2 linked regions of the Homo sapiens genome follow. The protein of the gene in region 1 interacts with the protein of each later gene in a biochemical or structural test. Each region holds a gene or a part of one and is shown on either strand. Other genes may lie near its edges.

Region 1 (7,876 bases):
CTGCTAATTTTTGTATTTTTCGTAGAGACAGAGTTTAGCCATGTTGGTCAGGCTAGCCTCGAACTCCTGACCTCGTGATCTGCCCGCCTTGGCCTCCTAAAGTGTTGGGATTACAGGCATGAGCCACCGTGCCTGGCCAAAAAAAGACACTCTTGAGGATTCTCAGATATAAACGTTTTCAGGTACAGCTAAACCTTGTTTAAAAATTTATTGGATAAATTTTTAAAATTTTAAATTCCAAATGAGAGCCAAAAAAAAAGTTTACATTAAATTAACACAGACCGAGTATAGTGGCTCACGCCTGTAATCGCAGCATTTTGGGAGGCCGAGGCACTTTGGGAGCACTTTGGGAGCCCTTGAGCCCAGGAGTTTGAGACCAGTCTGGACAACATAGAGAGGCCTTGTCTCTAAATATAAAAAATTTAAAAAATTAGCTGGGCATGGTGGTGCATGTTTGTAGTCCCAGCTTCTCAGGAGGCTAACATGGGGGAATGGCTTGGGCCCAGGAGTTCAAGGCTGCAGTGAGTTATGATCTCACCACTGCTCTCCAGCCTGGACAACAGAGTGGGACCCTGTCTCAATTATTTATTTATTTTTCTTTTTTTTTTTTGAGATGGAGTCTTGCTCTGTTGCCCAGGCAGGAGTGCAGTGGCATGATCTCGGCTCACTGCAACCTCCGCCTCTTGGGTTCAAGCAATTCTCCTGCCTCAGCCTCCTGAGTAGCTGGGACTACAGGTGTGTGCCACCACGCCTGGGTTATTATTGTATTTTTAGTGGGTTTTCCCCACGTTGATCAGGCTGGTCTTGAACTCCTGACCTCCGGTGATATACCCGCCTCGGCCTCCCAAAGTGCTGGGATTACATTCATGAGTCACTACACCTGGCCTGAAAAAATTAATTAGTTAATTAACAACACAAAGGAAGAAGGGTGGTTGGTGAGGTAAAATTAATTAACAGCACAGAAATGTAGAGAAAATCAGGTTAAAACTGATAGAGATGATGTTTCCTGGGGTGGCCAGGGAGGCAGCTTTTCAGAAGGGGTTAGACTTGAGTCTAGCCCTAGAAGGAGGGTAGGGCTTACAGAACATTCCAGGCAGGGGAAAGTGGGTAGGTAACGAACAGAAAAGCCATTGGTGTTCCATGGATATGGAATAGATAAATTTGCTCAGAGTAAGATCCTCCAGAGGTGAAGTGGAGATTAGGTTGAAGAGTCAGCAAGAAGGGGCCGGGCACAGTGGCTCACGCCTGTAATCCCAGCACTTTGGGGAGGCCAAGGCAGGCAGATTACCTGAGGTCAGGAGTCTGAGACCAGCCTGGCCAACATGGTGAAACCCCGTCTCTACTAAAAATACAAAAATTAGCCAGGTGTGGTGGCAGGCGCCTGTAATCCCAGCTACTCAGGAGGCTGAGGCAGGAGAATCGCTTGACCCCGGGAGGTGGAGGTTGCAGTGAGCTGAGATCACGCCATAGCACTCCAGCCTGGAATGCGAGACTTTGTCTCAAAAAAAAAAAAAAAGAAAAGAAAAGAGTCAGCAAGCAGGGGAGAGTTTGAAGGGCCTTGAATAGCAAGAAAAGGAGTTTGGACTTGGTTTCATGGTCAACTTAAAGTTACATAGCTTTTTGAAAATAGGGGAATATGTTCACAACATCATTTAATATTAAAGTAAGAAGAGGCAGGCTGGGTGTGGTGGCTCATGCCTGTTATCCCAGCACTTTGGGTGGCCGAGGTGGGTGGATCACCTGAGGTTAGGAGTTTGAGACTAGCCTGGCCAACATGGTGAAACCCATTTCTACTAAAAATACAAAAATTAGCCAGGTGTGGTGGCGGGCGCCTGTAATCTCAGCTACTCAGGAGGCTGAGGCAGGAGAATTGCTGGAACCTGGGAGGCGGAGGTTCCAGTTGCACTCCAGGGTAGGGCCAACAACAGCGAGACTCTGTCTAAATAAATAAATAAGCCAGTCATGATGGTGCATGCCTATAGTCCCAGCTACTCGGGAGGCTGCAGTGGGAGGATCGCTTGAGCCTAGGAATTTGAGGCTGCCATGATTGCACCACTGTGCACCAGCCTGGGTGACAGAGTGAGACCTTGTCTCAAAAAAAATTAATTAATTAAATAAATACAAAATAAAATAAGAGGAGGCCAGGCATGGTGGCTCATGCCTGTAATCCCAGCACTTTGGGAGGCTGAGGCAGGAGGATGGCTTGAGGCCAGGAGTTTGAGAGTAGCTTGGGCAACATAGTGAGACCATCTCTCTACAATAAATAAATAAAGAAGAGGTGCAATAGCCAGGTGTAGTGGTGGTGCCTATAATCTCAGCTTTTCAAGAAGGATATTAAGGTGGAAGGATTGCTTGAGTCCAGGAGTTTGAGGCCAGCCTAGGTAACATAGTGAGATTCAATTTCAATTTAAAAAATAAATAAATAAAAATAAATTTAAAAAGAAGAGACCAATGTTTGCAAGGTGATTCTTTGAGATAATTGGTCTCCACCTTTCTTTTTTTTCCTATTTAATTTTTATTATAGGTTCAGAGCTACATGCACAGGTTTGTAGGCCAGGTGCAGTGGCTCACGCCTGTAATCCCAGCACTTTTGGAGGCTGAGGCGGGTGGATCACGAGGTCAGGAGTTTGAGACCAGCCTGGCCAACGTGGTGAAACCCCATGTCTACTAAAAATACAAAAAATTAGCCGGGTGTGGTGGCTGGCACCTGTAATCCCAGCTACTCAGGAGGCTGAGGCAGGAGAATGGCTTGAACAGGGAGGCAGAGGTTGCAGTGAGCTGACTGTGCCACTGCACTCCAGCCTGGGCAACAGAGCGAGACTCTGTCTCAAAACAACAACAACAACAAAAAAACCAGGTTTGTTACATAGACAAATTGTAGGCCATGGGGTTTGATATACAGATTATTTCATCACCCAGGCAATAAGTATAGTACCTGATAGGTAGTTTTTCAATCCTCTCCCTTTTCCCACTCAATCTCCAACTTTATTTTGCCCCCGACTTGGAAAGCCTTTCCTTCTCCATTTTACCTAAATTAATCTCAGACTCTGGTTAAGACCTGTTTAAGTTCTAACCCATGCTTTCAAAAAACATAATAGATCTCTTCATTTTCTGAGGTCTGGCTTCCATCTGGCAATTTGCCTGTTATTTCCCTCAGTAGTTTGTTAGTTCCTAAAAAGCAGAAACCATGCTGATATTGTGTGTCTTCTTACCATGACTAACAAGTGTTACATTTCTTTTAAAACAAGGAAGCAAACTACAAAGCACCAAGTGCATGATCTTAATTTTATTTATTTATTTATTTATTTGAGATGGAGTCTTGCTCTGTCGCCCAGGCTGGTCTTGAACCCCTGGGCTCAAGTGATCCTCCGACTTCAGCCCCACAGAGTAGCTGGGACTACAAGCTCACGGCACCACTCCGGGCTAATTGTTGTTGTTGTTGTTGTTGTTGTTTTTGAGGCGGGGTCTCTCTCTGTCACCCAGGCTGGAGTGCAGTGGCAGGATCTTGGCTCACTGCAACCTCTGCCTCCTGGGTTCAAGTGATTCTCCTGCCTCAGCCTCCTGCGTAGAGGGGACTACGCATCCACCACACCCGGCTAATTTTTGTATTTGTAGTAGAGACGGGGTTTCATCATATTGGTCAGGCTGGTCTCGAACTCCTGACCTCGGGTGATCCACCCGCCTCGGCCTTCCAAAGTACTGGGATTACAAGCGTGAGCCACCGCGCCCCGCCTGAAAGTCTTTATGTTGTAGTTGTTTTGTATCTATTCCTCATCTTCCTGGGGACAGGGATACCATTTTACACATCTTCCCACAATCAATCACAGTGTTTAACAATTACTGTATGTACTCTATGAATAAGATACCTGAAGATTGATTCTCTTTATCGTTAATGTGTGGACTGTATCAGGCAAAGTAAAACCCCTATCATCAAAAGCCTAAAGTTATTAAAGGGAGTGGAAGAAGGCTATCGGGACATATTTTTCTCGAAGGTGTGACATCACAAATAAAAGAAAATTAACGTATAGTGAAATCATCACTGTAGTTAGAGTCAAAATGCCTTGCCTGTGTTCCAAACTTTGGGCCAGTCAACCTACAGGGTGCACGGTTTCCTCATTAGTTTCTTCAGAGAGTAAATGAGACATTGCATAAGCTAGCACCTAGCATACAGCAGGCAAATACTGCTGGATTTCTTTCTTCCACTAAATGAGAAGAAAATAATGACTCCCACATTTACACGTTTTAGAATATTTTATTTTGCGTCAGCGAATAGAGAAAACAAAGGAGGGATGAGAGAACAGGAAAGGAAAGGGGCAAAAAGACAAAGTGTTAAGCGGATTGACCCAACGCTTTCATCGATATCCTCCTCAATTTCCTTGATCTTGGGTCTCGCTCTACACGCAGGCCTCCAACCACACCGGTCTGTCCGGATCTCCCTCCCCGTCAGTGGCGGCTGTCCCCACCACGCGCGGTCTGATCCGCCACCCCGCCCCCACAGCCCACTTTTCCCAGGCCCTTGGCCATCCCGCGCCCGGTAGGAATTCACCTGCACGTAAACAGCCAGGGCAACCGTCCTCCCTCCTTGGAGCCCGCCTCCCGCGGCCCCGGGCTCCCTCCCCCGCCCCCTGCGCCACCCCGGTGCCCCGCCCCGGGCGGGGAGAGTCGGGGCGAGGGGAGGGCCTGCCAGGTGAGGCGCGGTCACCCTGGGCCTCTCACTTCCGCCCAGGTGAGGCAGGGCCGACACCGAGCCCGCCCGACCCGGGCTCCCACCTGCTCCTCCAGCGCACCAGGTAAAGCGTGAGGTCCCGGCTGTGCAGTGCGCGCTCGCCCCTGGGTGTCCCCGCGCCTGGAGGCCGGCCGGGGGCAGCTCCCTCGGGGCTTCCCGGGCCTGCCTGCCCTGCCCCCGCGCTCTCCCCGCCCGCCCGCCTGGAGTGGGTGGGAGCCGGAGGTGGAGGGCGCCGCCGGGCGCTCAGAGGGGCCGCGGCGAGGATGGGGCGCCCGCGGCGTGCGTCCGCGCTGACCCGGGAGGCGGGGCGGGGGCGCCGTCCTCCTGCGTCGGGCCCGGGTGACCCCACGGTGGTCCCCGCCCCGCCGCGCAGGGCTCGCCGAGGCCGCGGGCAGGGAGGGGCGCCGCCCCGCCTCCCCAGGCCTTTCGGGCCTCGAATCTCGGCCCACTGGTATTCGGGGGTGGCACGGATCCTATTTTGCGCCCAGATCGGTGCCCCTGTTTCGCTCCCAGAGCTGGGCGGAGTCTTTCCCTCCATCGGTGGCCGTGGAAGGAGGGAACGGGGTGAGGGGACAAAGAGGAGGGGGTGCTCAGAGCCGGGCTGAGGGGGCGACTTGGGCCCGGCCGCGTCGCGGCGCCTGGTCATCCCGTAGCGGAGGTTCCCAAGCCAGCGGTCAGGCCCTGGGCTCTGCCAGCCTTGCTGCGTAGATGGGGAGGTTCTGTCGGAAAGTGCTTCCAGCCTTAGGGGAAATTCCTGGACTCCTGCTTTTAAATCAAGCTCAGGAAAGCATTTTCAGATCACTCCCACTCTCCAAAGCGCCCCAGCCGTCCCGCACGCAGGCCGAATTAAGTGAACACCCCTTCACTTGGCACTTTGTCATATTTCCAAGTGGCTCTTGTCACTTTGAATTCCAGTTGGTTGTTTACTGGCTTGCCTCTGCCATTTAGAGGGTGCCCCTTTCAGGGCCTTATTTTTCGACTGCATTTAGGGTCTGGCTATTGGTAGGTGCGCGACAAGTGTTTCTTAAAGGAAGGCAGAAGCCTTTGGAAACCCAGAAGGACAATGTCGGTTCCACTGAGGATGATACTACCACATTCTGGGCTAAATTCCTATTGGCTGCAAATTAATTTGCACACATCTATTTGAAAGGAGTGGAGGCAGGGGCAGCGGTTAAAAACTTAAATCTGTTTGCAGCATTAGAAAATGTTAGGTGAGATTGAGCCTTTTAGCTAAAGTGAGCTTTGATGTTTTTAGGGCCCCTAATGGCCTTTAAGATGTTAACAATAACAACAACAACAAAACACTCCAAATGTGTTGAATTTATTTGGGAATGAGAAATGAGCGTTATAGCCCGAGGTGCACAGGCCTGGCAAGCCATATATGCATGGAAGAGGGGAGGGTAAAAGGAAACTTTTATTGGCAAAGTAAGTGCAGATAAGCTGCGTGAAAACAGAGTTTATTGGTTTTGCAGACTGAAAGCCAGAGTTGGCCATTGTTGAAGATGCCATTACTGGGCAGGTGTTATGGAGAGCATCTTATCAGGCCTGGCAACCTGCCTCATGCCTGTTATCTCAGCTACTTAGGAGGCTTAGGCAGGAGGATCGCTTGAGGCCAAGAGTTGGAGACCAGCCTGAGCAACATGGCTGTCTTTACAGAAAAAGCTTTTTAAATAGTCAGGTGTGTCGGGAGGTTGAGGCAGGGGAATTGCTTGAGCCCAGGAGATGGAGGCTGTGGTGAGTGGTGTTTGCACCACTACACTCCAGCCTGGGTGACAGAGCAAGAACCCTGTCTCAAAAAAAAAAAAAAAAAAAAAAGGAAAAAAGATTATCTTATCTTATCTTATCTGAATTACTGCATTCCTAAAGAAAGAATTTCTTGGGTGGTTATTTTAGTTCCTTCTTGAGACCGATCTTTATCTCAGACTTGCAAGCATGAGCTTTCTCCCTCAGGCTCTCTAGTTTGTTTGGGTTTGACAAAAAGTGATTTTGACCTGGTATCTGCAACTTTCACAAAGATAATAACAAAGTTAATAAATATGGAAATACTTATGGATAGAACTTATAAAATGAGTTCTGAAGAGATTTGCCCTTACTAGTCCAGATCCTATTAGGAGTAAGAGAAAAAACACAAACTTTTTCCTCTGCTCTCACACCACTACAGTCAACACTGAGGACTTCTGTGACCAAATAAATGTGTGGGCCCATCAGTTCTGCATCAAGCAATAGCTGAGCATCTAACAGTTCGATTCTGAAACTATTTACCTGGGGATAGTGTCAGATCCCATAAGACTGCCCTCACTTCTGATGCCAATCACAAGTCCTAGATTGTTTTACCCCGGCTTCTGACTAACCACCTATAAATTGGGAATCCCATAACTCCCTCCTCTGGGTTGGTTAACTTGCTAGAGCAGCTCACGGAACTCAAGAAAACACTTATTTAGGTTTATTACTAGTTTATTATTAAGAATATTACAGAGGATACAAGAGGAAGAGATGCACAGGGTGAGGTATGAGAAGGGGCATGCCACCCTCCAGGAACCTCCATGTGTTCAGATATTGAGAAGCTCTCCCTACCCCATCTTCTTGGGCTTTTTATGGAGACTTCATTGAGTAGACATAATTGAAGCATGGGGTAGGGAAACCCAGCAATGCCTATCTGTTCAGATTTTTCTTGGCCTCTCTCTGTAGCATTCCTTCCTCCAGGGTATGGGCAGGACCCCTTCTTATGGGGGTCTTATGACCTACAATCAGACAAGGGAGATCAGATAATTTTTTTAAATATTTATTTATTTATTTATTTTGAGACAGAGTCTTGCTCCGCTGCCCAGGCTGGAGTGCAGTGGGTGATCTCAGCTCACTGCAACCTCCACTTCCCGGGTTCAAGTGATTGTCCTGCCTCAGACTCCTGAGTAGCTGGGATTACAGACATGTGCCACCATACCTGGCTAATTTTTGTATTTTTAGTAGAGACAGGGTTTTACCATATTGGCCAGGCTGGTCTCGAACTCCTGACCTCAAGTGATCCACCTGTCTTGGCCTCCCAAAGTGCTGGGATTACAGGCGTGAGTCACTGCACCTAGCCAAAATTATTTTACTTTATTTTATTTTAATTAATTAATTTATTTATTTGGAGACGGAGTCTTGCTCTGT
Region 2 (8,246 bases), on another chromosome or scaffold:
GACAGATAGGACTTCTAATTGTTGTATTAAAAACTTCTAAATGCACGAATCTTGTTTTATGCACCCTTAGGCTTGGAAGTTACTGCTGTCTCTTATATGTGGCCCTTTAGTGGACAAACCTCTTCAATTTTATCAAGTTGATTTTCTTCATCATCCACAATATCAACATTCCTCATCTCTTTCTGGATTAAGTTGTCTGATCATCCAGAGACAAACAGCAAACTGATTTTTAAACAAAACCAAAATTGCTATTTTGGCTAGGTTTTCCATATTTTTGTCCCCCCATCTCCCACATCTCATCCCCTTTAAACCAAATCTTTTAGTAGGTGCTATTTTCTGATTTGCATTTCTTCAAATAAATATGCAACTACAAAGTAGTTTTGATTAGTGCTTGGTCTTACGAAAGTATTTCAGGGGTTCAAGTTCGTAATCCCATTGGTATTTATCAGTGTTATTTCACAGAATTGAAAAGATTGTCACTAATTAATAATATAAATAAGATTGTACTGGCAGTTGCAAAGAATCTCAGCGAGAATTTTTTTAAAGAAAATATTTCCTTTACATTAATATATTATGTAAGAATTTTCACATGTTGATTTGCATAGAGTTGTGCCTGTGTTAGACATACACTACACTTTTTCCTCTACAGTAACACAGGAGAAAATATATCTCTGTAAATGACTCCTGACTGCGACAAGACCTGCCAATTTACCCTCGGATAAGTCTCTGAGAGCTTAATTGGAGTTATTACCTACTACTAAATCATCTTTAAGTCACTCTTCCTTAAGAGCACAAATATAGGCATTCTGGACTGCTCTGATCAAACCTTTAGGTTGTTATTCAAGCCAAAGTGGCCCCAGGTAACAGGGAGAGGAAAACATCTAACTGTCTACTAAATAAAAACTAACTTTGGTAGAGCATTTTCTAATTAATTGTTTTCAACCTTTTTAAAATTTAATCTTCCCAACACATCTGTGAGGCTGGGATCCTATACCATTCTCCTTTTTTCATAGATTAGGAACCTGGGGCTCAAAAAGGCTAAACGAATTGCCAGTCACCACAAACAGTAAGTACCAGTCAGAATTGGCATTTAGATATTATGACTCCATTTCCAGTGCCTTTTCTAGCACAACTTGCTGAAAAGAGGGAAGGTGGAGAACATTAAAATGCATCTGTTATACTCAAAGTTAAGAACACATTTCTTTTTAAACTGTCTTAGCCAGACTCAATGACATTTCTCAGAGGGGTTACTATCTGATTGCCTTACCTACCTTTCCTGAACAAGGGAATTTCCTGTTTCCCCCTATAGGGTATTTCACTATCAGAAGATTAATGAAAGTCTATATTTAAAATCTGAATCTAAATTTATAAATGTAGATTTCTAAATCTAAATTTATATTTAAAATACTACTCAGATGGCATGCCGTCTTAAAGCAGGTTCTCCCAGGACTTTATTTATTCTCATATTCTTATAAGGAAATATGAACCTCTGACTCTATCTCTCTGTTTCTTCTCTCAGTGGATTACATATCGGTTTAAACAATTCACTGCCTCACCCATATTGGATGAGTTTCTATAATGTTGGCAGGCCATGTGTTAGACCTGTGGAGGGGTTTATATGTCCCATGACTCCTTAACTTTAACTGTCTGGCTAACTGTGCACAGCTACGGCTTTCTATATTCCTGGATGAATGTCTGCCATTAGCTTGCAGCTGACCATGGTGTTGGCATCCGTGTATGGCCATGGATCGTTACACACGCTGGGACTGTGGTGTAGGGGTATGTAATTTCATTGCTTTTCCCACCTGATTTCTAACTACACCCAATTTATTTTATTATTTTCAATGTCTTTAATAAAAATTATTTTCTTCCCCAAAATGTTAAAAGGGAGAGGAAGAATGAGTGGACCAAAGGAGAATGGATTTTGTAAACATTAAAAGATGCCCCAAAGAAGAAGTGTTTGTGTGCTGAATTATTTTGAGTCTAGATTTCCTTAAATTTTGCCTTAAAAATTGACTTAAAATTTTTTTTAGCCCTGTTACAGTTTTTGGATGTAATTAACTACAGTGTTTTAAACATTTTACTTCTCACTATGTATTCTATACTACACATACCATAATAAACACTGGCCATGATCCCAACTTAGACTTGATTTAAAATAGAAGTACTTACGAATCCAAGCAGGAAAAAAAAGCATTCTAACACTCACAAGGCACATTCTTTTCTCACGCTTTCCTCAGCCTATTCCCCTGGGCAGTAAATTGTATAGTAAAATGACCAGTTTATTATTTGCTGTTTTCTTTCACTCTGCTGAGAAAAGCTACATTGCTGGCAAACTGACAGAAAATTTAAAAATGGAATCCAGTATTTTGTATGTCTGTTTAGGGAATGTGTGCAGCATAGACTATTCACGTGATCTATATTTCTCTTTTTTTGTCCTAACTGGTATCAACAGAAATGTAATGAATGAGCTTCTTAAAGTAGATGGGATAAGCAGAGATATCCTCAGAAAAGCAAGAGATGATTCTTGCTTTCCTTTTCCTAAAAATTCAAACAAACCATTAACTAACAACTAACTAAAAACGCTTTTATTTTTTAAGGGAAAAGCAGATTTTAAAAAAATTAAAATTCATTTTTTAATATGTGCTCAGCTAATACTTCACTTATTAAGATATTTAGAAAATGTTCACATTTTTTTCTTACAAAACGGATCTTAATGGAAGCCCCCTGTTTGCCTCACCCATGAATTTTCATTTTTTTTTTTTTACTCTTTTTGGCCTTGTCTTTTATAAATGTACTATTTTCACCCACAGCTTAAGAGAGCTTCTTTGATGTTCTTAGTACAACATAGTGTATGTAATGTCAGCTGTTTAAAGCTGGAGATCAGATTGTGCATAATAACATATGTAGTTTGGATTATATAAACACTACAGGAAGAAGGGGAGACAGGGCCTTTCTGTGTGCACATTTCAGATTGCTAGCTGTATGCCTGTTTAGAATGTTAAATACTCCTAACTAGGCAGTGATGAAGTTACTTCTTTAGTGACTGTGACTTCTGAAACTATAAAGACAAAACTTTTTCAACTAAAAATAATTTAAAGATGATGTCAGTAATGAACATATTTATGTGATTTTCTACTTGCTACTTAAGGAGCTTTGAGAGTAGAGGGAAAAAAATTGCACTGCCTTCAAAGCCCTATTTAACTAAGCAATTTCATCAAAAATTTGGAAATACAGCTGAGAAGAGCCAAAACCAGAAAAATGTGGTACAAATGATAAATTTCATCCATTATACCTTTCTCCCATTATAAAGAAGTCTGGAGCAGGAAATCTTACCAGTCTATTTTCTTAGGATTGTTTCTCTTATATTTTAATATTTCAGATTAGTTAGACTGCTTGGAGTTTTTGTCTTTTGTTTGCATCATTCTTTTATCATTAAGGTTGCTGTCTGGCTTTTTTGTCTGTTGAAAGATTTCGTTTCAAGATAAATTAAATAAAACATTACCATATTTTTCAGCAATGAAACATTTCAGATGGAGAAAGAAGTCAATAGTTTTCTGGTTTAAGTTTGTATTTTTATTTTCAATATTCTATCCTGCCTTGTTTCGGGAATACTTCAAGGCCGCTGATGTGTTTACTGCTCAAATATCAACACAGCAGTAATCAGGCCTTTGAAACTATGGGTGAAAAATCCAGTCCATTTCAGTCTTTTTAATTTATGAAAAGAGATTGTGTGGCATTTTGCTTCCTGTCCCTTTTCATAAGAACTTTAAATATGGACACCCCTCCTGCTGGTGTCTTTATATAGGGAAGCTCTGCGTGAGGTTGAAGTTTTTATGAGGAAACTTGTTTAAAACACAATCGTATTTTAAGGCGGGTTTGCCACAGCAAGGTTAGGGGTTACCAATAAATCGGTTTACAGCAACTTCTCTATTCTCTGCTCCAGACACACCAATGGGGTGACCCGTGCACAATTCCCGCTGGCCACACAAGGCAGCGGCAGTTCTAGTTGATCCTTCCTTCGTCAACTAGATCAACGAAGGCTGTCTTAGAGAGCTTCGGGTATTAAGTGAGCAGAGTCCCTTAGGCCAATTTGGCTGCCTGGGATTCCTGGGAGGATCTTGGAGAACCCAGGACACCCGAATCCCTAGTCCCTATCCTGGTTTTTGCTCTGCTGGAGAATAACAAAACATTTTGGGAACTCAGGAGTTTAATTTACTGCCACCAACCGACAAAATAATAGCATCTTTGTGTGTTCTCTCCCCTCCGTCCCTCCCACCTCCTTCCGACAGAAGCACGACGCTGGCCCTCTGTGAATGTAGCGCAGACAGCACGGGCCAGCCCGGAGCGGTCGCAGGAGGCTCCAGACCCGCGGCCCCAGGGACGCCCGGGAAATCACCGGCCCCAGAACGTCCCCCATTCCTTTTGGGAAATAAAAAGACGCAGCCGGTGAGATGCCTTCTTAGACCTTCCAGCTCATTTAGCTGATTCTGGCCCCAGAAAGTGTGTTTGTGTTTGTGTGTAGTTAAGTGAGGCAGAGAAAATCCAAGAAAGCCGCACAAGCCACCCCAAAGCGTCCACGGAAACTCCAGCTCGGTTAATTGCTCCCATATGTCCTCCTCGGCTGTGGTAAAAAAGCAGCGAGGAGGGAAGGCCGGGTCGCTTTATTGATTTTGAAGAGGCTGTAAAAAAGACTATGGCCCATCTCATTTTGGTCCCAGAGGGGCCTAGGCGCAGCCCCGGGGGACCCGGTGCCCAGAGGGATGGTAGGGTGCTTCAGGCCCGGACCTGGCGCCGAGAGGCGGGACAAGGGGACCTCGCGCCCAAGCCCCGCGGAAAGTTCGCGCTCCGCGCTCCAGCCGGTCCCTGGATCCGCCGCAGCCCGGGGCGGGGAGGGGCGCGGGAGGCGCGGCCGGGGCGGGCGCGCGAGAGGAAGGTGCCTTCGGGAACACGCGCAAGGGCGGGGATTCGCGCTGCCAATGAGGCCCCGGTGTGGGCCGAGCAAGGCGGGGGGACGGGCCGGAGCGGAGGCTTTGCTGTGGCAGCTGCTGGAGCGGCGGCCGCCTCGGGAGCCGGAGGAGAGGCAGCCGCGGAGCGCCGAGCTGGCCTCGCCCCGAGGCCCGGCCCTGGGTGTGGGGAACCGCGCTGAGGAGCTGGAAACTTTCCCGGCAGGTAACTCCCGCAGCCCGGACTCCGCCGCGGGCCTGCGAGCGCCCCGGGCATGGCCAGCTGCCAGTGTGCGGAGAGGTCGAGAGGGACCCGGGGTGGAGAGGGTGATGGGAGAAGGGAAAGGCGTGTGGGAAAGTTTCTGGAGCGCCCCCTCCTCCGCCGGGCACACCCGGGAGCTTTCCGGGAATAGGCACAGACATGTTGGGCGCCCCGGGCCTTGGTCTCTCGGCGGCTTTGGGGAGTCCGCACCTTCCTTGCGCGGTTCCCCCGCGCCGGACCGAGCCGGCCTCCCCTGGAACCGGTGTGGTGGGAACCGGGAACGCTTGGGGCACGCTCGAGTTCTGGGACCACCCCCGCCCGGCGCGCCCGCTCGCCCCCTTTCCCGCCTTCTCTGTAGCCCTCGGGCTTGGCAAGGGCCTGGGCTACGCCTGGTACCTGGCGCGGGGGAGGCGGGGGGAGGCGCGCCTGGCACCGCGGGGTCCTGGGCGCCCCCCGGAGTGTTGGGGTGCGCGGGTCGCGAAGTTGCCGAGAGAACTTAAGCCGGAGGCATGGTATTGCCCCAGTCTGGGCTGAAAGTCTATTGCTTTGCTTCCAAGAACACTGCGATTAGCATATCCACACTCCTTTATTGGGGGTGGGGGTGAGTTAGGATTAGACGTTGGGGGTTTTTCTTTAGGGGTGGGGCGCTGAGAAGAGCGGTAATTGTCAAGATTGTGAGCCCCCTTGTTCTTGGATGCAGAGTGGTCATTTTCGGGGGACGATATCAGGGCACTGGCTTCCTGGAGGACTTTGGGGTGCGGGCGCGCAGCGCTGTGGGTGTGCGGGGCTCCCGGCTTTGGCGCGGCGGCTTTCCGGAACGCCTGGCTGGGAAGGAAGCTCTAGGCATTGTGTGGTGTGTTTGCAGACAGAAAGGTCCCTGGACCGGTGTTCTCAAAACTTACTGGACTTATTGTGTAAAGCTCCGGGAGGAAATGTGGCGTTGGCCAGGTAGAAACGCGGCGCTGCGGCCAAGGGGCGGAGGACGCCAGGCTCGGCAACGGCCTTCTCCCAGCCCCCTCCTGCCAGCTCCAGATCCGCGTGCCTCCAGTGTTGGGACCGTTCTCAGTGGCGTTGTTCCCTGCTGGAGTTAACTTGGGAGGTGAGGAGGGAACTTTCATCTTGAACTTGACCCCAGAAGCAGCGTCGTCCGTACAGGTTACAAGGTAAATGGAAGCTGAGTCTTAACGTGGGTTGGACCGCAAACTCTGGCTGGCGCGGAAAGGAAGTTCCTGGTTCAGAATCTTTGAGGAAAGGGCTCAAGATTGCTGAGATCGCTCGCTCTGGAAATGCCAGACACACCAGACTGCAGAAGTTAATGCGTGTTTGGAGGGGTGGGGGTGGGAGAGGAAAGGAGAAACCTGGTTAGTTGGCACAGAGGGCTGGTATTTCTCTGTAGTGGAAATGAAGGGAGTCTGCGTCTCTGCTTTCACCAGATCCGCTACCCTCTTTTTTCCTTCCTTGGTCATCTTTATTCCTGCCAGGCTGGCACTCCTGAGGCAGGGGAGGGGAAGGAGAGGAAAGCAGTTGTGAAGCTTCCTGGGTCAGCCTGGAGGTATTTCAGATCTGCTACTAGGAAGATTCCAGGATTTTAACAGCTGCTTCTTGATTGCTGGGAATGAAGGAGTTTATGAGCGGCTGAGACTACTTCATTATAGAAGTAGTCTGAGTGTTTTACTCATCTAAGCTACTTAAAGACCTCACAAGGGACCTTCCCTAGAGTATGCCAGTTTCTGCAGTTTGTGTCAGCCAGAATGCTTGGTGAGTGTTAGTCAAAAAGCATCATAAATATATCCTGGTGGTTCTGAAATGAAAAGTATGTGGCAGTAAAGGAAGTATGGTATCTGATATCCTTCAGGACTTCCTCCTAGGGTTGTTCCTGTTACCTGCCAAGTGAACTTGGTTCAGGCTTCCGGACTGTTGTGATTTGACAATAAGAGATGGGAAATAGTGTCATCGATTTTAGTGGAAGCAGGAAAAGTCCACAAATAAATTTAAGGTGAGTTTTTATGACCCTGTCTTGCACATGTGGTGCCCCAAACTTAACTTTTTGGCACCAAGCCTTTTGGTTTGAAGTGTTGCTGGAACTTGGAAGCAATGGTTTTCCTGCTTTCTTGGTTTAACCACCAGAATGCCCAAATTATTATAATTTATATCCATCCTTGATCTAAGATATAACTGATTCATAGTCAGCCTTTTTCTGCTTCCCATAACAGCCTGTAGAAAAAAGAACATTTTGTCTCTTTAACCACACACGATTTATTTGGTGCCATAGTAGGTTTTGACACTGGGTGATTGAGGGCATAATTTTAGAGACAATGGAGTTGTCTGGATTAAATCGTCCATTTTTAGGCAACGTTCTCTTCTGAGTTGCTGATTAATTCTTTATTTCTCTGGGAACATTAAAACCAGCATCCCTGAGCCAGTGGAACTATAATCCATATTATAATGACTCCTGCCAGCATAGCTGGAGGTTAACTTTATGTCGTTGTTTCCATTAGACATTTCTAACCTAATTGTAAAGATTTTGTCTCAGTTGGGTTGAGAGTAGGGTTGAGAGTCTCATAGAAAAAGAAATGGCTTTATTTTTATCTTTATGATAAAATAAAGTTTGTGTTACAGGAATACATTTACAGAAGCAAAATAAAGAAGAGTGTTTATATATTTGTGGGGAGGATTTGTTTTAGTGTTTAAAATAGTTTGGTTTTCAACTGTCTCTTAAATGCATATTTCAGTGGTGGAAAAACCAGAACCTCTCCCTGCCCCCTTTCTCCCCACGTTATGAAAGTGTTCACTGTACAAAGAACTCTTAAGCCTTTCTGGGTCTTGGTTTTCTCATTTTTTTCATCCCTAAAATGGGATTACCTTGCATCCCTAAAGTTCTGTGACTCTCCAAAAGTTTGAGAAATGTAGGAATTCTGAAGCCAGTGCTGTAATGTTAGAACACTGCTATGGGGTTTATAAGGGCTTGATTTACACATTTTATCCCTAACCCTTTATTTGAATAAACCAAGGCCTAGAAAGTTAAATTAGACCTGTAT

Evidence for each region.
Region 2: the proteins of PATJ (region 1) and TANC1 interact in a test that uses a peptide from one of them, tested with the Homo sapiens proteins (2 studies listed by IntAct, with this or other methods).

What each region holds. Positions count from the first base shown.
Region 1 is NC_000001.11:61,737,766-61,745,641, forward strand, and holds the start of PATJ (inaD-like protein), read left to right. Parts: upstream 1-4,714; 5' UTR 4,715-4,790; exon of another isoform or gene 4,791-5,019; intron 5,020-7,876.
Region 2 is NC_000002.12:158,963,611-158,971,856, forward strand, and holds the start of TANC1 (protein TANC1), read left to right. Parts: upstream 1-5,029; 5' UTR 5,030-5,172; intron 5,173-6,017; exon of another isoform or gene 6,018-6,371; intron 6,372-8,246. UniProt on the Homo sapiens protein: May be a scaffold component in the postsynaptic density.